4 linked regions of the Homo sapiens genome follow. The protein of the gene in region 4 purifies or fractionates together with the protein of the main gene of each other region. This does not show direct contact. Each region holds a gene or a part of one and is shown on either strand. Other genes may lie near its edges.

Region 1 (3,500 bases), on a different chromosome or scaffold from region 4:
AGAGAGAATGAACAAAGATGGTGGTGTTCAGCTCAGCGTGCCAGAACGATCTTGGGGTGACTTGAACAATGTGTGAACAGCCCCAGAAGTTCTTCGTTTTAGTTGTTTTTAAGGAGGTTCTTTCAGGACACAAGAGTCCTCTGATTCCATCTACCTGCTATTTGGTAGGTTCCCTCAGAAACCACACCCAGCCTGCATCCCCTTGGGCTTTGTGGATCTGCCTGGCCTCTCCTGGCTCGGCCCCTTCCTTAGCAACTCCTGTATCTACCCCTGGGCCTGGCTGCATCTGGCTGACAGCCTTTTTCCTCTCTAGGTAATCAAAGCTCTCTTTGTGCTCAGACACCAGCAACTATTCCCTGCTGGCGGCTGCTGGGCAGGAGACACAGGCAGAGGCGCCCTGCCAGGGAGTGTGTGCTCTGAAATGGAGACTCAGCCTCACAGACCAGCAACCCCCACTGTGGAGCTCCCCAAGAGTTGGCCACAGTGGCTCAGCCACAGTTCTGTCCGCAGGGTCTCCAGGTCCCCCAGGTCCAAGCCTCGTGCGGGAAGCTCAAGGAAGCAGACAGTGTGGTCATGGGGTCTGCAGCTTAGAGGGCAGGGATGAAAAGTGAGGGCAGAGATGCCCAGTGGCCAGAAAAAACTCACAAGAACAACTTATTTAGAAAAACAGAGCTGCCTTGTTCACACTCCAGTCATTTTTCAGGAGGGGAAAAGTCCTCTCTTCTTCCATTGAAAGAGGACTGCGCGTCTGTCCTGAATGGACTTGGGAAATTCTGTGTAGAGAATTCTGGAGTGACAGCAAAGAAGGCTCTGTTGTTTGGGACATTCCCTTTAGGCACAAAGGTAGATCACACCAAACCATGCATCTAGAAACCAAAAGCTGCACATTCCCTCTCTTGATAGCTTAAAACATTTGTTTTCCAGTGATGGGGTGATGAGGGTACTGACTCTCTGCAGGATTAAGAATTTTATTGGCCTGGCCCGTGGACAAGTCCCAACCAACATGTTGCATAAGAAGCAACTGCTTGGCGGGGCGCGGTGGCTCACGCTTGTAATCCAGCACTTTGGGAGGCCGGGGTGGGCGGATCACGAGATCAGGAGATCAAGACCATCCTGGCTAACACGGTGAAACCCTGTCTGTACCAAAAATACAAAAAATTAGCTGGGTGTGGTGGCAGGCGCCTGTAGTCCCAGCTACTCGGGAGGCTGAGGCAGGAGAATGGCATGAACCCGGGAGGCGGAGCTTGCAGTGAGTGGAGATCGCGCCACTGCACTCCAGCCTGGGCAACAGAGTGAGGCTCCATCTCAAAAAAAAAAAAAAAGAGAAAAAAAGAAGCAACTGCTTGGGCCGGGTGCAGGGGCTCACGCTTGTAATCCAGCACTTTGGGAGGTCAAGGCAGGAGGATCACTTGAGGCCAGGAGTTCAAGACCTACCTGGGGAACACAGCGAGATCCTGTCTCTAAAAAAAAAAAAAATGAAAACAAATTAGCTGTATGTGGTGGCATGTGCCTGTAGTCCTACCTACTTTTCAGGAGGATCACTTGAGCCTAGGAGTTTGAGGCTTTCGTGAGCTGTGATCAAGCCACTGCACTCCAGCCTGGGCAACAGAGTGAGGCCCTTTCTCAAAAAGAAAAAAAAAAAGCAACTGTTTGAATTCTAGCAACAGTGGGAACAGGTGTGGCTTAAGCCAGCATTTGTCACTGGGGTTATAACTAAGAAGCAGCCAATTCCCAGACCTGTAAATCCAAGGGATAGAAAAGCCACACAGCCAAGGGCTTGGCTTTCCCACAGGCACTCTGTGGATTTTCAGCTCTCAGAGATGCCACCCGTGGCCCTCAAATCCTGGTACCAGGGTATCCCAGCAGCAGACATGTTCCTAGACTAGACGAGAGTATACTGTCAGCCCTGTTTAGAAGCAGGAGGAAGATTCATAACTTTGACAACTGGACACTGACACCGTGAGATTGAATAAAGAGCCTTAGAAACATGCAGGTGAAAGACAACCCGTGCCCCTGGCAGTGTGTGCTTGTGAATGTTTGAGGATTTAACAGAGACTATGGCACCTGGGAGCCATTTGTCATTGAAAAGTTAGGAGGTTTAAAACCCCCATAAAATAACCAAAGCCCTAAAACCTCTCAGCTGGCTTCCCTGGAAAGATAGCTCCACCCTGGTTGCAGAACAGGAGGGAAAAGCCTCTTCTCCTGATTCCAGGTGGGCACCCATTTCCTTGCGCTGGGAGCACAGTGACAGGCTGGACATCCTCCCATTAGCTACCCGGCCTAAAGCTGAGCACAAAACTAGTGTCCCGATTGAGTTTTCTTTATCAACAAGCAAACACAGCAACCTAAATCAAAATGCCTTTTTTTGGCCAGGTGCGGTGGCTCACGCCTGTAATCTCAGCACTCTGGGAGGCCCAGGCGGGCGGATCACTTGAGGTCAGGAGTTCGAAACCAGCCTGGTCAGCATGGTGAAACTCCTTCTCTACTAAAAATCCAAAAATTAGCTGGGCATGGTGGCGCGTGCCTGTAGTCCCAGCTACCAGAGAGGCTGAGGTGGGAGAATCACTTGAACCCAGGAGGTGGAGGTTGCAACCAGCCAACATGGCGCCACTGCACTGAGTCTAGGCGACAGAGCGAGACCCTGTCTCAAAAAAAAAAAAAAAAGCCTTTTTAAAACCTGTACCCTGTGGATATGCCCTTTGGGGAACAGCTCTTTGCAGCAAGGCGAAGGGGCCCCCCACACAAGCCGGGCTGGTAAAGGCTGTGGCTCAAAGCGAACAGCAGAATCCCGTGTTCTCTGTCCTGTGGCACAGGCCTAGAGAAAGACCCCATCACTCTTGTTCCCATATAACTGACACAGTGGGGAAGATTTTCCCAAAGGACAGGAAGGGCCCCTCTCCATGCTTTGAGAAGCCCCAAGGGAGGCTTCATGCTTGAGGGGCTCACAGGATCAGCTACAGAGACCAGGAAATCCTTCGGGTGCACACACATAAAGAGAGCAAGCGCAGCGCTTCAGGCCCGGGGTAGATGGGGGTTGATGGACTTACTGCCACCCAAGAGCTGCCCACAGAGCATTTTCAGAAATTTCTAGAAGTTTCTATGGGCACGGTGTGCTGAAAGGAGGACCACCTCACGTGCCCCACGTACTCCTGCTAACTGCCCCCAGGGGAGGATGGTTCCCATGGAAATCACGTCTTGAGGGCATTAGAGAGACCATGAATATTTAGAGCATGGCATTTGGGTACAATCTCCTGAGGATTTTCACTCTAACAGGTAAGTTCTTTGTTTATTTGAGCCACACGCATTTGCTGAGAGTGGATCACAGGGACAGCACAGCCACCTTTTTCCAGCCAGGGAGGAGCATGGCCCAGAAGGAAAGGAAAGATGGGGATGCGAGACAAAAGACCAACCCCTCCCCCAAGGACCCATTCACCCAGGGCAGAAAGGTCTCTGCTTCTCAACTGCTGAATCCCAGGGGGAAAGTTCCAAAGTGTGGTAAC
Region 2 (7,877 bases), on a different chromosome or scaffold from region 4:
GTATCTAAAGCAACCAGTCTGAAGCCAACAAGGTTCATAGCCTTGGCCCAACAGAAGCCCTGAGGGAGCTGAGCATCTGAGCCTGGGTTTTTGTTTTTGTTTTTTGTTTTGTGAGCACAATGAGGGTAGCGAGGCTGACCTCATGGGTCTGTGGTGAAGAGCAAAGAGAACAGCTATTGGTACAGGCCAGGTAGATACACTTAATGAACACAATCTCATAGCAGTGTCATGTGTGGGTCCTGCCCACATGGAGGGCTTCATAAGCCCCTAGCCCATTCCAGGGACACACACACACACACTATACACACATATATGCACACACGCACATATACACACTCACGCACATATACACACTCACACGTACGCACACGCATGCTCACAGCCTAGGCGATATGTCTTTACCTGTCTGCTTCTGACACCAGGGCAATGCGGCCATAGTCCCAGAATCTTCTTCTTATAATAGAAAACACCAAGATTAAGAACTAAAAACAGAAAAGAAACCAAGTAAAAGCATATTGGATGGCTTCTCATTAGAAGACACAGCGGTCTCAGGGGTAAAGCCCACCTGCCCGCACTCAGCAGGGCTAGAAGGAAAACACCCAGGCCCAGAGAGGGCACTGAAGTGCCCAAGGCCATGCAGCTCAGTAGCCCGGATGCTTTGCTCACCCCCTTCACCAGGCTCCTGTCACCTGTGCCCACGCCACCAAGGCTGCCAGCGCTGACGCCAAGCTTGCCTGGAGCCTGCCTAGTTCTGCACGTCAGCCCTGTCTCTTGCTCTCAAGGCAGCGGTAACACCACAAGGCCCAGTCTCGGGCCCTGCTCTGCCTTCAGTGGCCCCGAGCAGGAGGGTAAGGTCTGGCCCCAGAGCAGCCCCAGGAACCAGCATCCTTCTTCACTTTACAGAAAATTTTTTTCTTTCGGCTCACTGCAACTTCCCCTCCCGGGTTCAAGCAATTCTTGTGCCTCAGCCTCCAGAGTAGCTGGGACTACAGGTGCCCGCCACCACACCCAGCTAATTTTTGTATTTTAGTAGAGACAGGGTTTCACCATATTGGTCAGGCTGGTCTCGAACTCCTGACCTCAGGTGATCCACCTGCCTCAGCCTCCCAAAGTGCTGGGATTACAGGCGTGAGCCACCATGCTGGCCAGAAAATTTCATTTTAAATTACAGAACCAAGGTAGCAGAGCCTCCTCAGGCTGAGCCAGAAACGGTCAGTTTTTTCCTCTGAGTTTGATTCCCCTGAAGGCAGGCCCCGCAGGCCCTGCAATCCCCCAGCAGAGAGCATGCATGCAGGCAGCAAGGCACCACGAGAACCTGTGCTCGGGCTGGCTTGGCCTCCGTAAGCTGGGACACCTCAGCAAGCTTGTGTCCAATGGCAACCTCAGGGCTGGACTAAGCCGCTTAGCTCTAGACATCTGTACACTCTAGACTGTCCTCACTCCCCACAGTCCACCTTGGCAGGCTCCATGCCATGTTCCTGCCTCTCTTCCCTCCCTAGACAGGGTCCCTCTCTTTGAGGTTCAGGGAGGTAGAGAAATACATCTTAGTAAGCACATCCCTGCCTGCTCTGATCAGAAACGGGGGTTTTGAAGGTAGGCTTTGTTTTCCTAAAGGAAATCCAGAAGACCTGAACCCCAGAGGCACTGAGTTCTCGTGGAATTTTCTTCAGGTGAATCAGGAAGTTGGTGACATATTTTCAAAGGCAGGTGAGTCATGTTGTAGGAAAACCACGAAACCTGCTCAGCAGGTGCCTGCCCTCTCTGTCCACAGCGGCTGCCGCCCTGGCCTGTGCAGTGCAGACACTTCCCACAAACCCATGCTCTCCAGGGCCCTCTGGCTCTTATGTGTCCCCCCTCCCCCACCCCCAAAACTTACTGCAATAAAAATCCACCCCTGGCCGGGCACCATGGCTCACTCCTGTAATCCCAGCACTTTGGGAGGCCAAGGCTGGTGAATCGCTTGAGCTCAGGAGTTTGAGACCAGCCTAGGCAACATGGTGTGAAATCCCATCTCTACCAAAAATACAAAAATAACCCAGACACGGTGGCATGTGCTTGTAGTCCCAGCTATGCAGGAGGCTGAGGTGGGAGGATTGCTTGAGCCCAGGAGGAGGAAGTCGCAGTGAATTGTGATTATGCCACTGTACTTCAGCCTGGGTGACAGTGAGACCTTGTCTCAAAAAAAAAAAAAAAAAAAAAAAAAAAAAAAAAAAAAATTCACCTTCAGCAGCACAATAGAGGGTGACTCTCTTCTCAGCCAACACTGTTGCAACAATACCCACCCAGCCCAGCTAGGGTCCCTGCCCAGGTCCCCCTCTCTGTACTCCTCACCTTGGCCAAACTCTCCCCACCCTGAAGACCCAAGGCCACCCTCCTCTAATCCCACCAATTCTGAAATCCACCCCCACACCCCTGCCCACTCCTCCTTGCTACCCTAAGCCACCCTCCCCATGTTCCCCACCCGAGCCTAGTCTCCAGCTCCAAGCAGTCCAAGGATGTTTACTCCATCAGAGCCATCTGCCCCCTTCACTCAGATGGTCTCTGCCACATGTTAGGAGACAGTATCAAGAGGCACTGGCCAGCCCATGGCATTTGTGAAAAGAAGGGGCACTTTAACCCCAATAAATCTCAGCCAGCCAACGTTGAGTCTGCATAAGGAAGAACAATGCCATGGGGCATCTTTGTGAACAAGGAGATCTACGTTAAAGAAAGGCCACCTGCTGAAGGTACGCTCTAAGAATCAGCTTCTAATTCTTTTTTTTGTTTTTTTGGTTTTTTTTGAGACAGCGTCTCGCTCTTGTTGCACAGGCTGGAGTGCAGTGGCGTGATCTCGGCTCATTGCAACTCTGCCTCCCAGGTTCAAGCAATTCTCCTGCCTCGGCCTCCAGAGTAGCCGGGATTACAGGCGCCGACCACCACACCCGGCTAATTTTTTGTATTTTTAGTAGAGACAGGGTTTCACCATGTTAGCCAGGCTGGTCTCGAACTCCTGACCTCAGGCAATCTACTCGCCTCAGCCTCCCAAAGTGCTGAGATTACAGGCATGAGCCACCGTACCTGGCCCAGCTTCTGATTCTTTAAAAACCCCAGGGATGCCAGAGGGGAACAGGAGGTGACACTTGGGAACTGCAGCTGCTCTATTCTAGTCCGTACTCTCCAGTCACATGTCTCAACCCCTTGAGATGACCCTTCCCAAGGGCCTTAAAGATACGACAGGCTGAGAGCTCTGCAATCACGGTAGTAATCACAGGCATAGCTATATGAGTATTCTGGCCTTATCCAAATTCCAAAATTCTCTGAGATAGGAATTATGATCTCCATTTCCGGAGCAGAAAGGGGAGGTGCACAGAAGCTAAGTAACACGCCTAAGTCACAGAGCTGGTAAGCAGCAGAGTTGAGATTTAAACCCAGCTATGTCTGACTTCTCATCTAAGTTTCCCAGAAGGCCCTGGGTGGGGCATTTAAACAAATAACTGAGGCAGTGGGACACGACTCATGAGGGCTCTCACCAGGAAGCAGCTGACGTCTATGAGCAGGACAGTGGGGATGCCACCAAAGGTGACCCCCTGGAGCACGGTGCTGTTTTTGGCCGAGTTGTAGCAATAGGAGTCGTTGGGCCGGTCCCCGAGTCCCAGCTGCTCCCTGATGGACACTGCCTTGGACTGCCACAGCTCCAGGAACGGGGAGTCCATCATCGCGCCTGTCTTCCCTGGAGCACAGGACAACAGGACAAGGCAGACGTTCAGGGCTCAAATTTCTTGCAGGTTCCCACCAGTGCTGGCAGAGCCAAAGGCAGGCGTTTCCCAGGGACTGATCGGGCAGTGAGCCAGCAGCAAGGAGTCCGGGAGAGCCAGACATTGGACCTCTGCGTGCCTGGCAGTGTCCACAGAGAATGGCTGCATTGTGGGACAATCTCAGGGGATCAGATGGTCAGAGTGGATGGCTCATCCAGGACACAGTGGGCAGATCCCCAGAGGGGGCGACATGGAGCAAAGGAGGGACAGAGTTGCTGCAGCTGCTGTCTTAAGAAGTCCTAAAGTTCCTCTAGCCTCGAGGACTCGTGTTGGGAAAGTCACTCCTGCAGAAGCCACTGGCGGATCTAGAGTACAGGCAGAGGAGAGGGAGAAAGGCACACAAAGGCAGGAAGAGGAAAACACCGGGATAAACAACCAGGGAAGAAGGGAACATCCAAGTATTCACGATGGTCCATCCACGAGCCACAGACAACACCTCACTCCCACTGCTCACAGAATGTCAGAGCTGGGACCTCAGAGATGGGTCCATCTGCTATACTTGGAAACCAAGCCTCAGAGGTTTAATAACTTGCCCCAAAGTTAAGGTTAAGGAGCTGGTCAGGGCAGAATTGAATCCCAAACCCAATATCCTGACTCTCAGATGCCACTTCTCTTTTTACTTTGCCACAGAGGAGAAAGTAAAGGGGGTGGTCTAGGGTAGGGACGGGGAGGGAGTCAGGAGTCCCAGGGCCTCCTCAGGGACCTCTGGGTCCCCTAGCTCTGCGCTTTCACACACACATACCCCTCCTGGGTACCATCAGTCTAACTGCAAGGCCCAGCATTTCCAAAGCAAACACTGCTCCAGGCTGGGTTGTTGACCTTTCCTTCCTGAGGCTCCTGGCGCCCCTGGTGAAGCTAATAGAAATCTCCAGTGTCTGTCCCCTGACACCAGAGGACCGGGAGTTAGTGTCCAAGTTCTCATGCTGTGGCTGAAGGGCCAGAACACATATTCAGCCTGGACTTGCTTAAGATCCTACCTGCCCAAATCTGGTAAATCTAGAATTCCCAGGGGATTTTTCTGCTAAGTCTGGTGCTTCTAGCTGTTACAGGGACAAAGATCTTGAGAACAAGAAGAAAAGATATAGAGAACCCAAACAGATGTTTGGATACCAGTAGTGCTGGTGAGGTGTGTATGTTGGGTAACCCCTAGGCCTAGAGTGCTGGGGACAATCACACATGGACACCTACCTACCTACCTACCTACCTACACACACACACACACACACACACACACACACACACACGAAGCACAGGAAGCATGAATGAGTGGAAAGCCCAAGAACATGGGAGCATCCCACAGACAGCCAAGTGACTTTCTCAACCTTCTAAGAGACTTGGCAATGGCTGGAGGTAGTGGGGGTTGTGATGCCAGAGTCATGGGGCTGCTGACTCTGAACAGAGTGTCACAAGAGTGACCTCTGGAACACAGATGTTCTTGGCTTCCCTTTAAAATCCCCCAGTGGCACCACCCAATGGAACACACCAGCCCAACACTTCAAGGCCACCACCTACCCCTCCTCCTTCCTGTCCCCACACTTACCAGACACTAGGGGAAGGAAGGACTGTGGATGGGCCCGTTGGAGAGGTCCTCAGTTGGAGCTGTCTCTGGCAAAGGCAAAAGCAGCCCCAGCCACCTCCCAAGCTGCCAAGGGCCAGGCGTCGGGCCTAACACTCATGTCCTGCAGGGCTTTCCTGACCAGCGAGTCCTGGGGTACCAAACTGTAGACTTTCCTGAAGGATCACAGACACCAAGCATCACATGGGAGCCACCCTTTTCCAGTGTAGGGGTCTGGATGGAAACCCTCCAGCACACACCTGTGTATGCATGCTGCCCATATGGACCTTTAGGTTCTGCCCAGTGGGCTCCCTCCTGCCTTGATCTCTCCCCAAACTCCCAGAACTGGTTCTCCATCCATCAGTGCTCCTCTGTGCGACCCTACTCCTCCTTCCTCGGCCAGCACCACCTGTGGCCCCAGCCTCTCTCCTCTTTGCCAATGGCTCAGGGACCTGCTGGGTCTAGGGGAGCAGCCCTCTCCCACAGAAACCCTGGAGGTTGTGGGCTCACGGTAGGGCCCCAAGCAAAGGACTTCACCTGGGCCCCAAGGGCCAATGCTACTGGGGAGGCTCCCCAGGGTTCCCCAAGAGCTAGAATCAGGAAAAGGGAACACAGCAGCATGAACAAGGAAGGCTTGAAATGTGAAGTGGAAAGAAAAAACATCCCCATAAAATGCTCACAGAGAGAGCATTGTCCCTGGAAAGGGGAGGGTGCTGTGGTGGTGCTGGGAGTGGCATACCCTCGCCAGTGCTGCAGAGGAGAGAGGCCTCTGCGGAGGGAAACACCTGCGGCTCCTCTTCCCCCTCCCTCCAGCCCCAGTCATGCCTCTAAGTTACTTGTCTCTTGCCAAATAGGCTTCCCAGGGTGGTTTGACAAAGTTTGATATGAACTCAGGGAGGTGGCTAGCAAATACTATCAGCCTGAGACGGAGGTAAGGTCAGGTGGCCAGTCCTGTCTGCCCTCTCCGATGAGCACCCAGGTTAGGGTAGAGCTCTGGGGACCCACAATCTCTCTCAGACCTTTCAGCTCAGTCCCAGCCTGTCCCTGCCCATTAGACACATAAAGTCCAGATCCCCCTGAAACAGCTCCGTCCCTCTGGCTCTCCATGGGACAGCTCCTCTGCATTTTCACAAACAGGCACGCTCTGAGCAGGCAGCTGGGAACACAGACACCATGGGACAGTGCTGCCAGGCTGAGGAGAAGGCAGGGGGAGGGGAGCACCCAGCTGGCAGCTGTATAGAGGAGGCCAAACCAGCAGCTAGGCACTGTGGTTGAAGTGGCACTGCCTGGCTGAGAACCCCTGGCAATATTCAGTCATCCTAGATGTATGTGAATGCCTAGCACTTACCTGTGCCTTCCAGAAATTCTCCATTCATCCCCTTATTCCTACTCAATATGCCGAGGGTAGGAAAGCCAAGAATTACTGCTGAGGCCCAAGAGCCAGAGTGGGCAGCAGGTGACTTCACGCTCCCAACCCAAAGTTCAACCCATGTGCAGGCAAGCGTCTGATTGTGGCCAGTGGGAGAGGGCTAAATCCAACAGCTGGTCTAAATTTGCCAAAGTAAACTACCTATGCTAATCCACTGCCAGTCTCCATTGGCAGCAAGGACTGGCCTGGTGGTCAACTTGACAAGCTCTAGAAATACCAGCAGAATGTTGCAGGAAGTATATGGATATTGTTCGTTCTTGCAAGAAGGCCCGTACAAATTCAGGGTAATTTTATCATCACCAAATCTTTCAATCCTGTGATGACAATAGCGAAACTACAAGCAGCTCCAGGCCTTCTGCCTCAGGAGCTAACTCTGGTCTTTCAGATGCAGAATAAGGTTGCAAAGTAAAGTACAAACTTCTCCTTATGGCAACACCAAACAGGACCCAGTAACCTGGACAACTGTTTACCTCCTACCCTGGAGCACAAAGGAAATGACACAGCCCCTGGCTGAAACCAGAGGCAGTGTGGCTCAGGGATTATGTGAGCAGGCTCTGGAGTTAGGGTCTCAGCACCACGCAGTTCAGACAAGCAGCCTAACCACTCTGTGCCTTGGCTTCCTTCGCCAGGAAATGCGAGTGATGACTTTCTCTCACGGAGCTGTTGGGAGGCACAGATCCCAAACAACACCTGTAAAGCACTTAGCCCAGGACCCGGCCCTAGCAAGCAATTAGAAGCTGTCTGCCTTTATTTTAAGTCGCCCCTCCAGCTAATGGGAAACACAAGGGCAGGATCCCACCTGACGTCTTCTCTGTTAGAGCCCAACGAACAGCTAGGAGAGACCTTTGCCCCCACACTAAACAAAGGAGAGGGGCGTGTGAAGGGAAAAGGAGCCTCGGCTTCCGTTCATATCCCCCTTGAAGGCACAGCAGACTTGAGGATGACCTGAGAGGTGTCAAGGGAGGGTCAGTGGGTCCGCCACGCTGTCCACCCCTGCCCTTGAAGAGGACACCACCTGCCTGGGGCTGAATGACCAAGGCCCCTCCAGGGCCTCAGGTAGCTAGTCTTATCAGGTGCTGGAACCTTTGCGGATTTGGTT
Region 3 (7,877 bases), on a different chromosome or scaffold from region 4:
CAATGGGACATGAGCAAAAACAGGCCTAAAAGCTGCTAGGACCCTTCTACTACCATGTAAGCAAGCCTGGCTAGACCACTGGAGAGACCATGTGCAGAGAAGCCCCAGCCATCTCATGAGGCCCCAGATACGCAGGTGAGGCTGGTCTGGTCCAATTGTGCCACCAGCTAGTAGTAGCCACATGAATGAGTCCAAACTAGACCCAAGAAGAACCATCCAGTGGACCCAGTTCACATCACTGATCCACAGAATCTTGCTAAGTGATTGTTTAAAAAGACTGTTTTGGGATGGCTTATGCAGCAGCCATATAAGGAACACTAAACCACTTTCTCTTATGCCTTACTCCCCAAGTACTTGGCTCCCAAATGCTAAGTATAGAGAAGTACAATTTTTGTTCTTCCTACTCAGCATAAACATGCTGCTCTCCAAGAAAACTTCCCTGACCCCAGAGATTAATTAGGTTAGATCTTTTGATTACTGCTTCCATAGCACTCTAGATTCCTCTTTTATAGAACCCACCACATTTATGGTTACACATGAGATATTTGTTAACCACACTACAGCTAAGAGTCATGGAGGAATGTACCGTACAACTATGTACCTGCCACATAGTAGGCTTTAATGAATGTTTGTTGACTGGCTGACTACCATGTAGAACAGACAGCACTTTGATATGCAAACAGCTCCCTAATCATAAGGATCCTGAACCATCAAGGAGATCCTCATGCTTCAAAAAGAATAGGCCTTTAAAAATCAGAAAACTTGATGTACATGTTAATCTTCACTTTTTTACATGGGCACCTTCAGCACTGAAGTCCCTGGCAGGCATTTTCTTTTTCTTCTGAAGTCCTGGAACTCTGAAGTTAAGCTGGAGTTTGGGGATGTATAATCTTTCTCTTGGGTTACAAATAAAACCTATCTGGCCTCTGTGTCTGTTTGCCATCCCCAAATCAGTCAACACAGGTCTGATACAGTCACCCTCTTGCTTAAAACCACCTACAGAATCAGGTCCCAAAATCCTTGGTGGGCCACTGGCCTTGTGTGGTCTGGTCCCTGCCTTCCCAGCCTGGTTTCCTGCCTGCCTTGTCCTCTGTGCTTCATCTGCATCCCATTTATCACTTGGACCTATCACTTGGACCTATCATGGTCTTTGGCATCTCTGTGCCTTTGTAATGACTATTCTTGCTGCCTGGAATGTACTTTTCTTTTTTTTTTTTTTTAATTTGAGACGGAGTTTCACTCTTGTTGCCCAGACTGGAGTGCAATGGTGTGCTCTTGGCTCACTGCAACCTCTGCCTCCCCAGTTCAAGTGATTCTCCTGCTTCAGCCTCCTGAGTAGCTGGGATTACAGGTGTGCGCCACCATGCCCGGCTAATTTTTGTACTTTTAGTAGAGATGGGGTTTCACCATATTGGCCAGGCTGGTCTCAAACTCCTGACCTCAAGTGATTGGCCTGCCTTGGCCTACCAAGGTGCTGGGATTACAGGCATGAGCCACCGTGCCCGGCCTGGAATGTACTTTTCTAAGTGGCAAACTCCTCTAGATTTTTCAAGACCCACTCTAGTTTTCCCTGCTCTGACATCTCCCTGAACTCCAGTCAATGTAAGATGATGCTCATTCCTCAGCTCCCTGAGCACTTGGTGCATTGTTCTATTAGTTATTTGTCAGCTTGGATCAATATTATTTGGGGAAATAAAACTCAAGGCTGACATGACACTGCTGATAAACTTCTGGTTAGCCTTGCAAAAAAAAATCATAAAGTCTCAGGCCACGGCTGCCTTGTCTGAGCCACACCCTTAAAATGGAAGATGATGTGTTCTGGGAGGTTCTCAGGAACATTCCCTAAATGATGAACAAGACAAGACTCCTTTGACACATCTGTATCATTTTCCCTCTTTGCAAGGAGTGAATGGTGTTGCTAAGTCATAACTGACTTTGAGCAAAGTTGGACACATTATTGGTTTTATATGTGTGTAAAGAAGGAACTGTAATTCCTAAAGATTCTTTGCTTGAAAATTTATTTTTGGCAGGTAATTAGGTTATCTAAATGTTCTTTGATAAATGACCCCCACCGCCAATCTCCTTTATAAATTATGCTTGCTCAATATTTGGGAACAAACTTGGATCTAAAGAATCAAAATGTGGCCTGAAGACTCCAGAAGATGCAGACTCTCCCCGACTTTTTTTTTTTTTTTTTTTTTAAACAGGTCCAAGACTTAGCCCAGTGCAGAACCCTGCCTGTCCTGGAGACCACCCAGGCTGACACTTGGGAGCCATACCTGGGAACTGCTCCCCTTCAGACTCTTCCTTCAGCTGCTCACTCCGCCGGCTCTCTCGGGCCTCCCTCCAGCGTAGCTTTTGGATGGATGGATTTCGAAGGCATTTTCGGATGCGGCACTTTTTTCGCTGCACAGTCTCTGGGCAGGGTGCACCTCCAAACTGAGGCTCCATTTGGATCATCCGGGTTCGAATCACGTGGCCTTTCCCACATGACTTGTTACATTCCGACCACTGGGACCACTCGGTGAGCTCACAGTCAATGGCTGGCAAGACACAGATGGGCATGAGTGTATCACATGTCTGAAACAAGATATGGTCACGCTCTCCTTTGAACATCTCAACAAGCCTATGAGGGATGCAAAGCAGGTGCTGTGTCATGCTATTTTACAGAAGAAGAAACTGAGGCTCCAAAGAGGCAGGCTGACTTCAGCCCGTGTGGTTGGTAAGCAGCAGAGGCAGGATTGGTGCCAGGTCATCACCCATTCTATGCTCCCTCTATGACTCAAGAAGGCTTTGGAGGACTTTCAGGATGTGTTCAGAGCCTCTTGCCCTGCTCTGTGAACTAGAATATTGTCAGATCAGCCTCAAGTACAGAATAGCTTCCCACAGTCCCAAACTCACTGGTGATATTTTTCAGAGCAAGGCCAGCAAGCCCCCTGCTGCTCTTTGGAGAGAACAAGTCAACAAGCTAAAGGCGGCTGACCCTTGTGGACCAATACCAAGGACATTGTGGTTCTAACACACCCTGGCAGCTTTTCATTCTCAACATCATCCTGTGTTCTATATATGGTGGTCTATGCAAAAAACACAGGAGCCAGAAATGGGACATTCAGTAGAGAAGAGGGTCAGGAGCAAGTGGTGCTTTATGGTTTATCGAGATCCAGTAAATTCTTACTAAGCCAGCATCTCATAAATGTGAAAGGAAAATAACACATCAGTTTGACTGTCAGGATGTGTCCCAGGGAGGTAAATTATTCCAAGCTCTCTGTTGGTCTTGCAAGGCCAAAGTCAGGGTGGTGGACTTAGATGTCCTCATTTAGTTCAACAGTTTCAGTTCTTTTATCCCGCCTGTGGAAGCTCAGGCAGCTTTCTTATCTGCAAAATGGGGATCATGGTATTTTTTTTTTCATTAGGTTGTAAGGATTAAATGAGATGCTCCCAGCCCTGTAAGTGCTCCATAAATTTTCATTTTCTTCTCCCTTACTTCAGTGGACCCCAGGCACTCTAAGTCAGAAGGCTATGGGGCCCCAACTCTGGTGAGCTGGCCTGAACCATGGGCCAATCTTAGTTACTGAAAACCCCAGGCTTTCTCTAGTGGGTGGTCCAAGTTACCTCCACCCATGGCTGAGTCTCCTAAAACAACCCAGGAGCTGGAGCATGGAGCAGGGATTAAGTAAGGCCTATCCTTGCCATGTCCAGTGCTCATACTTTGGACCAATTACTTGGTTTCATCCTCAGAGCAACCTAGGAAGTATTTCCTGCTATTTTACAGATGGAGAAACTGAGGAACAGAGGTGCTGAGTCATCGGCTGAAGGTTACTAGCTAGGGGAGGGAGGATGAACGACTGCAAGTACATGCTGGAGGGGGCCAGAGCCACAGCCAGTGTGCCTGCCCTTTTACCACCCAAAAAAGCAGCTCTTGGAAGACCAGCCAAGGAAACTGGCTTGCTCTGCTTGGAGATTAGTCCCATGTAATATAAACAGCTGATCGCAGAGACTTTGGAAAACAGGACTGGGAGTGGAGCGGGGTGGGGTGAGTTTTTGAGAACTTGGCTTGTTTTCTTGCTGGTTTTCTTACCAGTCTGCAGGAGTCATTGATTTAATGTCCAGCCTCTGGTCATGGGGAATTAAAATGGTCACAGGGAAAATAGAATTAAAATGCTTGGAAAATCCATGGGTCAGGCAAGCCTATAATTGTTGGGGGAGAGGAGGGAAAGAACTAAGGTTTATTGAGCTTTGTGCTGTTTTTCGTATGTGTCTGTCATTTAGACTTCACAGGAACCTTAACTTTGGGTGTTCTGTAGACGGTAGTGGGATTCTCACTTTATTAATGAAACTGACTGCAGTGTTTAAGTAACTGCAAACACTGAAAGCCAAACCCCAAACTCTTCCCCAGCAAACCATGTTATTCTAGGATCTAGCAGTATTAGCACTGGCTGGTTCGGGGCTCCCTGGACTCAGGAACATAGAAGTGATGGGCCTTGAGGAGCTCCAGGACTTACGGCATTCAGGGAGCATGCACTTCTCCACCTGCTCCAGATCCTCATTGCAGTCTCCAAGTTCTGCCAGAGACTTGAGCATCCGCTGTCGGGTTCGCATGCCCTTCCCGCAGGTCACGCTGCAGTCACTCCACTCGGACCATGGGGACAGCAAGCATGGGATGGTGTCTAGATCAAGAACCAGGTTTGCCACTGAGAACAGGTTCCTTTTGTTTTCGTTGATCTCCCTGACCCCACAGTGTTCCACACCGAGTCCCCTGCTTTGGCCCCTGGAATAAAGTGGAATTGGCCCATGGGTTCAAATAAGAGTGAAATCTATGGAGCAAGAAGTGGCTCAGCAGCCTACTGCTCTTCTTTTCACTCTCTTTCATCTCCCTGCTGACCCCCCCCGATGGTTATGACATGAGGGTAGCAATATGACTACATAAGTCCCCACTAGAAAGGCCACTGAGGATCTTAGCAGGGTCTTCCTAGAGACAGAAACATCCCACACTCACTAAGAATCAGGCACTAAAGGAGAGGCTCAGGGATGCATTTTTGGACATTGTCCTGAATTCCCTAGAATGTGTATATACTTGTGTGCCTGTATACATCTGCATACTAATGTGTGGGCAGGCCCATATGCATTTGTGCACAGAGCAGGGGAGGTCATGCTTTATGGGATCAGCCAAGTCCAATGTACAACAGGAGTGGGAGGAGTGGGCTGGACCTGGGTAATGTATGTCCCGCCTAAATGTATTGGCCCTCCTCCCCACCACTGCAAGAAAGACACTCCTATAAAACACAGCTGCAGGTGAATTCTCTATCCAGAGGCCACCAGTTTGCCACCCCAGCATTGCTTAGAATGTCCCCCAGTGGAGGTTACTCTCTCTGGGTCTGGTTGATGTCTACACACCTATGTCTCTCATCTGGCTCCCAGCAGTGCCCAGCAAGGACCATGGGCCATGCTTTCCTCTGCTCAGCCTCCGACCTTTATGGTGGTAATAGTGGATGCCATGGCCCTCCACGCCTGTCCCCAGTGGCCTCCTCCAAGTCCACCCCCGCTCTCACTCACGGCACTCTGGCATCATGCACTTCTCTGCCTGTGATGTCTCGGCTTTGCACATGGAGCCATCTGCGGGGTTCATCTTGATCATGCGGTGCCGCTTCTTCATGCCCATGCCGCAGGTGGCGCTGCACTCGTCCCACTCGCCCCACTCGGTCATCAGGCAGCTGCTGGGAGCTGGGGAGGCCAGCGGCATTGGAGTCGCACCTGCTGCCTCCCCGACCTACTTGCCCGCCTGCCCGCCCGGGGCCCCCACTCACAGCACTCCTCGTTGACCGTGCACTTCTCCGTTTCCTCAGTGGGCAGCGTGCACACGGAGCCGTCCTCCGGGAACTGCTTCACATACCTCTCCCGGGACCTCATGCCCATGCCGCAGGAGATGCTGCAGGGCGACCAGGTGATCCACTCGGACATGGTGCAGGTGGAGCCGTCTGCAACACACCGAGTGAACGCTGCAGCAGTGCACGGTGGCAGGGGCGCCTGCCAGGCTGCGCGGTGGGAACTTCCCGCCAGCGGGAATCAAGAGGAGTCAGGCAGTTGAGGTTGTCTGCACACCTAAGAGGTCTAAATCCTTAAACTGGCAAAGTTCTCTAAGAGGAAATGCCTCTTTTCCAGGTGCATGGGACACTCAGAATTACTCTTTATCTCATGAAAATACATTCGAAAGATGCTTGTATGGAAAGGATGGTGTTTAAAAAATGTACACGCATATATCTAAGATAAGATATAATTTAATCTACATATAATTTAAGATAAATCATAATCCATTTGTATGAGGAACAATCCTTCCCTGTGGAAGGGGAGGTTAAGGACCTCAGCTCCTCAGCTTAGCTCCCCAGTCCCAGCCCCAAGAAAGAGGCTTCAATGTTGACAGGCCAGTCCCAGCTTTCCTCCCGCCTGTTTGTAGGAATGACTTAGTCTACGGGGAGGGTTTACTCCCCTCCAAAGTGCTTATTGTGGGCAAAATGAGCTAGCAATAAACCATCGTGAAAGTGCAACACTGGGAGAGGTGTTTAAGAGCCTCCCTCTAGGCAGAGCCAAGGAATTAATGACCTGCATGGGATAAGCTTGCTTTCTTTATCCTCGGCTTGGAAGTGGTTTTTTTCCCTGCCATACACCAGTCCAGCCTATACAGTGCCTTCCCATTGCCTTATGGCATCCTATAAGATCAGGGCAGAATAGCGTAGATCTATCAGGCAGAGAAAGGGGTCATGGCTTGGGAAGCAGATAGCTGACCTTTGCACAGCAATCAGCTTAGTGCAATCTTGAAGCTTGAGCCATCATGATATAGGTGTTGCAAGATTATACTTAAAGGCTGACCTTTGCACTGTTGCAAATAGACTGAGAATTTCTGCAATCAGCCCAAAGGTCCTGACACAAAGAAGTGAGAGTGCTCTGACTCACGCTGAGGTGGAACACAGATGAGGGGCTGTAAATGACAGAATTAGGGCAATGGATCTAGATTCAATCTGGGCTGACTGTTAACAGGCTCCTTAAGAAGAGATTGGAGTTAAGGCCCAGAAGCAGGCTATGTGTTATCTGTAACTTGTCATAAGTTGTATCTATGTTTGTTAGCTCTTCAGTAAAAGAAGGAGGGGGTGGTCAATCTCAAGAATTCCTTTGATATAAGAGAGATTCTGTGTTCAGAGCCCTCAAGACACTGTTGCAGATAGGAGTTTGCCCAAGGTGGACCCCACTGACATCTACTGTCAGGGTCCTTGTGCCCTCACCAGGGACACTGTCTGACTGCTAGGCAGACCCTCCCTTCCTGAACTCCTGCCAGCCCCTGGCTGGTCTGGGTTGTCTCCTCACCTTCGTCACTGCAGCCAGGGCCCATGCAGGGCTGGAAGTCCTGGGTGTCAGGGCAGGGGACGCTGAGGTCCAGCTGTGCTTTCAGCATGCGCTGTCGCATCCTCTTGCCTTTGTCACAGGTGGAGGAGCTGCAGGCGGACCATGGGGACCAGTTGGAGTAGATGCAGGTTTCAGGGGTGTCATCTGGAAAGAGTGTTTGACATGTTTTCCCTGGGAACCTATGGGAGCTGCCACTGGCCCTCTCCCCATACCAGCTTATCTGGGGACAAGAAAAGCCATGCTGCCAGACTGACTTCAGTGAGCCTGGGTGCTCCTGGGATGGAAGCAGCCATCCACTTCCCTTTAAAGATAATAGTTTAACATCTTGCTAATAAATATCTAATCTAAATAAGCAGAATGATTCTTATTATCCCTTCCTCTCAACACATGAACGTCTTCTCATTTTCAGTCCCTCATCTTGGCATTGTTTCCAGACACATGCAGGCTCATTGTAGGTAATTTTGAAAAGCTCAAGGCTTATT
Region 4 (7,877 bases):
GTCGAGGCTGCAGTGAGCTGTGATTGTGCCACTGCACTCTGGCTGGCCTGGGTGACAGAGTGAGACCCTGTGTCAAAAACAAACACAGAAACAAAATAACCAGGCCAAGTAAGGTGACTCATGCGTGTAATCCCAGCAATTTGGGAGGCCGAGGTTGGGTGGATCACCTGAGGTCAGGAGTTTGGGACCAGCCTGGCCAACATGGGGAAACCTCATCTCTACTAAAAATACAAAAAAATTAGCCGGGTATGGTGGCAGGCGCCTGTAGTCCCAGCTACTTGGGAGGCTGAGGCAGGAGAATTGCTTGAACCTGGGAGGTGGAGGTTGCAGACTGTACCACTACACTCCAGCCTGGGCAACAGAACGAGTCTCAAAAAACAACAAAAGCAAAAAAACACTATGACCACACCCACCAGCACCGGGTCTCCTGCTGCTCCCTGAGCCCTTCTGACGCCCCCAGGCGGGTCTCCTGCTTCCCTGAGCCCTTCTGATGCCCCCAGGTGGGTCTCCTGCTTCCCTGAGCCCTTCTGATGCCCCCAGGTGGGTCTCCTGCTTCCCTGAGTCCTTCTGATGCCCCCAGCGGTGGCTGCTCTGATTACTCCCCCATCTTACAGATGGGGAAACCGAGGCCCAGCAAGGCGAAACCACGTGTCCCGGCTCACACAGCTGGGAAGTGGCTCCGGTGAGCTGGAAATCAAGTGCCTGGCTCTAGTCTGTGCCTGTCCCCTCAGCTACGCTGACATGGAAGGGCTGGGGCCTCGCTCTGGGGCCAGCGGGAGTGGGTGCCTGGGGATCCGCTCCCCCCAGTCACCCCCTTACCTGCTGTGAATTCATCACCACCTCTGTCTTGCGCTCCTCCTTGGCTGGACTCGGGGCTGGGGCCCGGACTGGGCTCGGGGCCGCCGCGTTCTCCTTGGCAGTGGCTGGGGCGGAGTCTCCACGCTCCAGCACCTCAATTTCCTTCTCCAACCTGGGGAGAGGGTGTGCCTGTGAGGGTGACTCCTGCATCCCCGGTGGGGCTCTGGGCACCTTCTGTACGACAGCTCCCCAGTGTCTTTTTTTTGAGACAGATTCTCGCTCTTGTTGCCCAGGCTGGAGTGCAATGGCGTGATCTTGGCTCGCTGCAACCTCCACCTCCCGGGTTCAAGTGATCCTCCTGCCTCAGGGTCTCGAGTAGCTGGGATTACAGGCGTGCACCACCACACCCAGCTAATTTTTTGTATTTTTAGCAGAGACAGGGTTTCACCATGTTGGCCAGGCTGGTCTTGAACTCCCGACCTCAGGTGATCTGCCCGCCTCATCCTCCCAAAGTGCTGGGATTCCAGGCGTGACCCACCGCACTCGGCCTAGCTCTCTGAATTTAAGGCTCCCAGGCAGCCCCAAGAGGCATCGTGCTCTTTCATGATGGGGGAAACTGAGGCACGGAGTGCAAAAGCCACATGGCCAGCAGGTAGCAGAGGCGGGATCCAAACCAGGGCTGACTCCCTGTGTCCCCTGACCCCTGGCCTGCGCTGTTTATGTCACTGTCTGTATCAAATGAACTCTCCTTTCCCGCTCAAATTTGCACATTTTAACAGGAAACTTTATCTCACCAGGGAAACTGGAAAAACCATGTCACTTTCCAAGTATTAGAAGAGATAACGGGACAAGCAGATCCAGGAAAACAAAACCGGGATATGAAATCCCAGCCCCGGGGTCTGGCAAGGGCGGGCGACATTCACGGCAGCTCAGCCTCAGCCTGAGGACAGGACAGACGAGGGCTGAGTGCGTAAGTCTAACAAGGTGGGCCCAGGCTGACAGGTTGGACACAGAGCCAGACTTGTGTCCCCTCCAACCAGAAGAGGGGTCCAGCCCACAGCCGCCTGGAGGGCTTCCTGCAGGAGGTGTCTGGGAGCCCACAGTCAGCCTGGAGGGCTTCCTGCAGGAGGTGCCTGGGCAGAGCCCCTGAGCAGGCAGAAGGTGGGTAGTGGAGACCCAGAGCAGCTCAGTTTCAGCACCTGAGAAGCAGGCTGCCCTGGGGAGGGGTGAAGCTGAAGCCTCTGAAAGCAAACTAGGCCTCAAGCCAGGTCTTCACCCTCCATCGAGGGGCCTGAGCCTGTGCCCACTAGGGCCGCGTGAAAAGAACACCAGTGTGCCCAGCCCCCACGGCCAGTAACTCCCACTGCCTTCGCCCAGGTGTCTGACCATCCACCTCTCTGCAGACAGGGCCAGGCCCGTCTCAGCCCCACCTCGGTCTGAACATCCCGTCCAGCCCAGGGACACAGCTGGTGCTTAATGTTTGCTGGAATTAAGATGCACAGTGGGGCCAGGCGCAGTGGCTCACACCTGTAATCCCAGCACTTTGGAAGGCAGAGGCGGGCGGATCAGCTGAGGTTGGGAGTTCGAGACCAGCCTAACCAACATGGTGAAACCCCGTCTCTACTAAAAATGCAAAATTAGCCAGGCGTGGCGGGCACCTGTAATCCCAGCTACTCAGAAGGCTGAGGCAGGAGAATGGCGTGAACCCGGGAGGCGGAGCTTGCAGTGAGCTGAGATCGCGCCACCGCACTCCAGCCTGGGCGACAGAGCGAGACTCCTTCTCAAAAAAAAAAAAAAAAAAAAAAAAAGACGCACCGTGGGATTTTTGCCTCCCTGGTTCACAGGTGAGGAAACTGAGGCCCAGGGAGTGGGTAACACTCGGCTCATTCCAAGGCCCCAAACCCACCAGAACTGCCCCACCCTGTCCATACCTTCCTTTTTTAGACAGATTCTCGCTCTGTCCCCCAGGCTGGAGTGCAGTGGCTTGATCTCGGCTCACTGAAACCTCCGCCTCCTGGGTTCAAGCAATTCTCCTGCCTCAGCCTCCCCAGTAGCTGGGATTACAGGCGCCCGCCACTAATCCACCTAATTTTTGCATTTTTAGTAGAGACTGGGTTTCGCCATCTTGGCCAGGCTGGTCTCAAATCTCTGACCTCAGGTGATCCTCCTGCCTCGGCCTCCCAAAGTGCTGGCATTACAGGTGTGAGCCCCACCCACGCCCAGCATGTCCATGCCTTTATTTTTATTTATTTATTTATTTTTTGAGACCCAGTCTCACTCTGTTGCCCAGGCCAGAGTGCAGCGGTGAGATCTTGGCTCACTGCAAGCTCCGCCTCCCGGGTTCACGCCATTCTCCTGCCTCAGTCTCATGAGTAGCTGGGACTACAGGTGCCCGCCACCACGCCTGGCTAATTTTTTTGTATTTTTAGTAGAGACGGGGTTTCACTGTGTTAGCCAGGATGGTCTCGATCTCCTGACCTCGTGATTCACCCACCTCGGTCTCCCAAAGTGCCAGGATTACAGGCTTGAGCCACCGCGCCTGGCCTTCTTCTGCCTCAGCCTCCGGAGTAGCTGGGATTACAGGCTGGGCACCACCACACCAGGCTAATTTTTGTATTTTTAGTAAAGATGGGGTTTCACGATGTTGGTCAGGTTGGTCTCGAACCTCTGATCTCAAGTGATCCTCCTGCCTCGGCTTCCCAAAGTGCTGGGATCAGGGGTGTGAACCACCGCACCCGGCCTGTCCATGCCTTTACACGCCCTGCCCAGGAGGGAAGTCCATCCCGAACACCCCCAACGTGCTTTCTTCAAAGCAAATGGGCAGAACTGGGCAGGGAGGGGCCCCCACGGGGTCAGAACCCAGCGTCTGGGAAGGGCCTGCGAGGTCCGTGTGATCCGGCCGGCCTCCCGCCTCTGGGCACCTTCCCTGGCCAGGGCAGACGTTTGGAATCTTGGTCGTCACTTCCCTCCACCCTGACCCTGCTGCCCCCGAGCACAGCCTGGGCCTCCCGCCCGCCGGAAACTCCAGGCCTTTGGTCCCAGCCCCCACAGGGATTGCCACTTTCCCCATCCTGTCCCCTTCCTGCCCCCGCCCGAGCTTCCTGCGGGCCCAGCTGCTCTGCATCCATCCCGTTCGAACCATGGGAGCGCTTGCCCGCCAGCTGGGCTGGCGCCAGGAAGCCCCCAGGGAGGCCAATGCCGGCAACACCCAGCTCCAGGGACCCACGAGCTCGACGTCACGTCCCCCGCTGGCCAGCTCCAGGGACCCAGGAGCTCGACGCCACGTCCCTCGCTGGCTCAAACGAGGGCGGTGGGAAGGGAAAGGGGTATCTCCCTGCCTGAGGCCACGCAGCCAGCCTCTGCCCCCAGCAAGCTGCCCCAGACCCAGGTGGATGCCCCAACCTGATCTGTCCCGTCCTGCGTCCCCCTCAAAGCATGTTGGGTCCTGGCCTGCCCGGTCCACGCATCTCCCTCAAAGCACACTGACGACTCTTCCCAGCCCACACCCTCCCGGGAGCCAGCGGCCCCCGAGGCCCCACCCAGCCCGGTGGCACCCACGCTGCAGCCCCCACCTGGACACCGAGTCCTCCAGCAGCCGTGTCTTCTGCTCGTCGTCCTGCATCTGCCTCCTCAGGTCCTCATCCCCCTCTGAGGCCGAGGACGGCGTCCCCTCCAGCAGCCAGCGCTCCCGCAGTGCCTTGGACTGAGCAGCAGGGATCCAGGTCAGAGTCGTGGGCAGGACCAGGGCCAGGGTTAAGACTTAAGACTGAGGTCAGGGTCAGGATCAGGGTCGGGGTTGAGGCAGGACCAAGGTTGGGGTCAGGGTTATGGTTGGGATCAGTGCTGAGGTCAGAATCACAATCGAGGTTGGGGGTCAGGGTCTGGGTCAGAGTCAAGGTCAGGGTCAGGATTGAGGTTGGGGTCAGGTCAGGGTCAGAGTCAGGACTGAGATCAGGGTCAGGGTCGGGGTCAGGGTCAGGTTGGGGTCAGGGTCGGGGTCAGGTTGGGGTCAGGGTCGGGGTCGGGGTCGGGGTCAGGGTCGGGGTCAGGGTCAGGGCTGGAGGCAGGGTCAGGGTCAGGTTGGGATTGGGGTCAGGGTCAGGGTTGGGCAGGAGTCCGGGGCCTCCGCCTCACAGCCGCCTGCACTCCCTGACCCTGGGTCCCTGCCCCGCTCGTACCTTCAGGTGCTGCAGCTGCCTCCGCTCGTCCTCCAGCTGCCGGCGCTTGTTCTCGATCTCCGCCTGCCGCTTCCGCTTCTCCTGTGGGGAGGGCCGGGTGGGGTCAGGGATGGGCGTGGGGGTCCCGGAGACCCCCCCACCCCCACACAAGGCTCTGCCCAGCCCGATCCTGCTTCCTCTGTCCGGGGATCCTCGTGGCCCACTGGCTTCCAGGTGACAGCGGATCGCACCACTGTACTCCAGCCCGGGACAGCAGCGCAAGACCCTGTCTCGAAAATCAATGACTGGCCGGGCACGGTGGCTCACGCCTGTAATCCCAGCACTTTGGGAGGCCAAGGCGGGAGGATCACTTGAGTTCAGGAGTTCAAGACCAGCCTGGCCAACATGGTGAAACCCCATCTCTACTAAAAATACAACAATTAGCCCAGCGTCGTGGCGGTCACTCATAATCCCAGCTACTCGAGAGGCTGAGGCAGGAGAGTCACTTGAACCCAGGAATCGGGCCACGTCACAGGAGGGTCGGGTCACAGAGAGGGGTCTGCGGACACCAAGAGGGCCTTCTTGGGCCAGAGGCCACCAAGATGGCACCAAAGCACATCTGTGCTCCCATCACCAAAGTTTATTTTCCTGCAGGACGAGGGCAGGGTTCCAGGGAATGCCAGCCTCAGTTTCCCCACCGACCCATCAGGCAGAGCGAGGCCGGGGGTCCAGGAGCTGCCGACTCAGGGGGTCTCCACTTCCATTCTCTGCGGGTCAGCAGGATCCAAGTTTCCCAAGCAAATAACTCACCACCCACCATGCCCTGGTTCCAGGTCCTAGGACAGGTCCAGGGCCCGAGACCCCAGGTCCCCCCACTTCCCCACCCTGACCACACCGTCTGCGGGGCGGCGGAAACTCACTGCGATGGCCTGCAGCCGCTCCTGCTGGGACGTGGTCTCTGCCGCCAGGACCCTGCGGGAGGGAGATAAGGTCAAGCTCTGGTTCACTGAGCCCTGCTGTCCGTCAGACGCGGTTCAAATCCCAGCTCTGCCTCTTCCCCTAGGGGTAACCAGGGCAAGGGATTTCATCTCTGAACCCCAGTTTCCCCTTCTGTAAAGTGGGGCCCTCCCTGCCCCCTCAGCGGCCAAGGAAGCCAGGACAGGAGGGGACGAGGCTCTGCCTAGCGACCAGGAAGGGTTTGGGGAGAAGGGGACATTGAGGCAGGGCCACCAAGGATACATAGGAGTTCACCAGGCATCAAAGGCCAGAGAAGGGTGTTTCGGGAAGAAGGAAGTGTATCACCTCCTGGCCCAGACCATAAGACAGATCAGGACAGTCCTCTCTGCACCCTCCTGCCCACCAAGACCTACTCTGCAGCCCCAGGAGGGGCAAACAGAGGATGAAAGACCCACCAGCCCCACCTCCCAAGCCTGGGCTTGCAAAAGCCCAGACAGGGAGACGAGCCTCCCAAGGACGCACAGCAAAGGATCCAAGTCCGGATTCAACCCCAGACTCGCTCTTATCCAATCATTGTGGTTTTGTTTGTTTTTTCAGATGGAGTCTTGCTGTCTCCCAGGCTGGAGTGCAGTGGCAGGATCTCAGCTCACTGCAGCCTCCGCCTCCTGGGTTCAAGCGATTCTCCTGCCTCAGCTTCCTGAGTAGCTGGGATGACAGGTGCCTGCCACCACGCCCGGCTAATTTTTGTATCTTTTAGTAGAGACAGGGGTTTCACCATGTTGGCCAGGCTGGTCTCGAACTCCTGACCTCAGGTGATCCGCCCGCCTTGGCCTCCCAAAGTGCTGGGATTACAGGCGTGAGCCACCGCGCCCGGCCCAATCATTGTCTTTTGAAAACAGCCCACCCAGTGCAGCTGTAGCCTCACCTCCCAGGGCTGGTATGTGGTAGGCGCTTAACAAATATCAGGGGGCAGCTGAGGCAGGCGGATCACTTGAGGTCAGGAGTTCGAGACCAGCCTGGCCAACATGGCAAAACCTTGTCTCCACCAAGAAATACAAAAATTAGCTGGGCGTGGAGGCTGAGGCACGAGAATTGCTCCCAACTACTCAGAAGGCTGAGGTGGGAGAATCACTTGAACCCGGGAGGTCGAGGCTGCAGTGAGCCGAGATCGCGCCACTGCCCTCCAGCGTGGGCAACAGAGTGAGACCCTGTCGCAAAACAAAACAAAAGCAAAACCACAGCTGCTCACGCCTGTAATTTTAGCACTTTGGGAGGCCGAGGTGGGAGGATTACTCCAGCCCAGGAGTTCGAGACCAGCCTAGGCAATCTAGTAAGACCCCATCTCTACCAAAAATAAAAATAAAAAATATTATCAAGGTGTGGTGGTGTGCGCCTGTAGTCCCAGCTACTCGGGAGGCTAAGGTGGGAGGACTGCTTGAGCCTGGGAGGTCCAGGGGGCAGTGAGCCATGACCCCACCACCCTACTCCAGCCTGGGCAGCAGCATGAGGCTCTGTCTCAAAAATGAATGAATGGCCGGGCGCAGTGGCTCACGCTTGTAATCCCAGCACTTTGGGAGGCTGAGGTGGGAGGATCACCTGAGGTCAGGAGTTCTAGACCAGCCTGCCCAACATGGTGAAACCCCCGTCTCTACTAAAAATACAAAAATTAGCCAGGCGTGGTGGTCGGCACCTGTAATCCCAGCTACTTGGAGGCCGAGACAGGAGAATGGCTTGAACCCAGGAGGCAGAGGTTGCATGAGCCGAGATCGCGCCACTGCACTCCAGCCTGGGCAACAGAGCAAGACTCCACCTCAAACAAACAAACAAACAATAAATGAATGAATGAATACCACTGTTGCCGGATACGCCTGAAGGGACCGGGCTTCAGGCTTCAAAGATACAGGGCCCTTTGTGGTGTGGGAAGGAGGTCCAGAAACCGAAGCCCTCGCCACCCCCACCAGGCAC

Evidence for each region.
Region 1: the proteins of PALM (region 4) and SLC24A4 fractionate together in Homo sapiens (co-fractionation; one large-scale study listed by BioGRID). This does not show direct contact.
Region 2: the proteins of PALM (region 4) and TMEM63A fractionate together in Homo sapiens (co-fractionation; one large-scale study listed by BioGRID). This does not show direct contact.
Region 3: the proteins of PALM (region 4) and SPON1 fractionate together in Homo sapiens (co-fractionation; one large-scale study listed by BioGRID). This does not show direct contact.

What each region holds. Positions count from the first base shown.
Region 1 is NC_000014.9:92,497,665-92,501,164, reverse strand, and holds part of SLC24A4 (sodium/potassium/calcium exchanger 4 isoform 1 precursor), read right to left. Parts: 3' UTR 1-3,500. UniProt on the Homo sapiens protein: Calcium, potassium:sodium antiporter that transports 1 Ca(2+) and 1 K(+) in exchange for 4 Na(+).
Region 2 is NC_000001.11:225,873,886-225,881,762, forward strand, and holds part of TMEM63A (mechanosensitive cation channel TMEM63A), read right to left. Parts: intron 5,526-7,877; 5' UTR 5,335-5,525; intron 3,710-5,334; 5' UTR 3,696-3,709; coding exon 3,510-3,695; intron 483-3,509; coding exon 403-482; intron 1-402. UniProt on the Homo sapiens protein: Mechanosensitive cation channel with low conductance and high activation threshold. In contrast to TMEM63B, does not show phospholipid scramblase activity. Acts as a regulator of lysosomal morphology by mediating lysosomal mechanosensitivity.
Region 3 is NC_000011.10:14,257,378-14,265,254, reverse strand, and holds part of SPON1 (spondin-1 precursor), read right to left. Parts: intron 7,540-7,877; coding exon 7,357-7,539; intron 5,976-7,356; coding exon 5,805-5,975; intron 5,722-5,804; coding exon 5,554-5,721; intron 4,668-5,553; coding exon 4,503-4,667; intron 2,544-4,502; coding exon 2,280-2,543; intron 1-2,279. UniProt on the Homo sapiens protein: Cell adhesion protein that promotes the attachment of spinal cord and sensory neuron cells and the outgrowth of neurites in vitro. May contribute to the growth and guidance of axons in both the spinal cord and the PNS.
Region 4 is NC_000019.10:724,188-732,064, reverse strand, and holds part of PALM (paralemmin-1), read right to left. Parts: intron 5,928-7,877; coding exon 5,876-5,927; intron 5,058-5,875; coding exon 4,977-5,057; intron 4,502-4,976; coding exon 4,371-4,501; intron 971-4,370; coding exon 820-970; intron 1-819. UniProt on the Homo sapiens protein: Involved in plasma membrane dynamics and cell process formation. Isoform 1 and isoform 2 are necessary for axonal and dendritic filopodia induction, for dendritic spine maturation and synapse formation in a palmitoylation-dependent manner.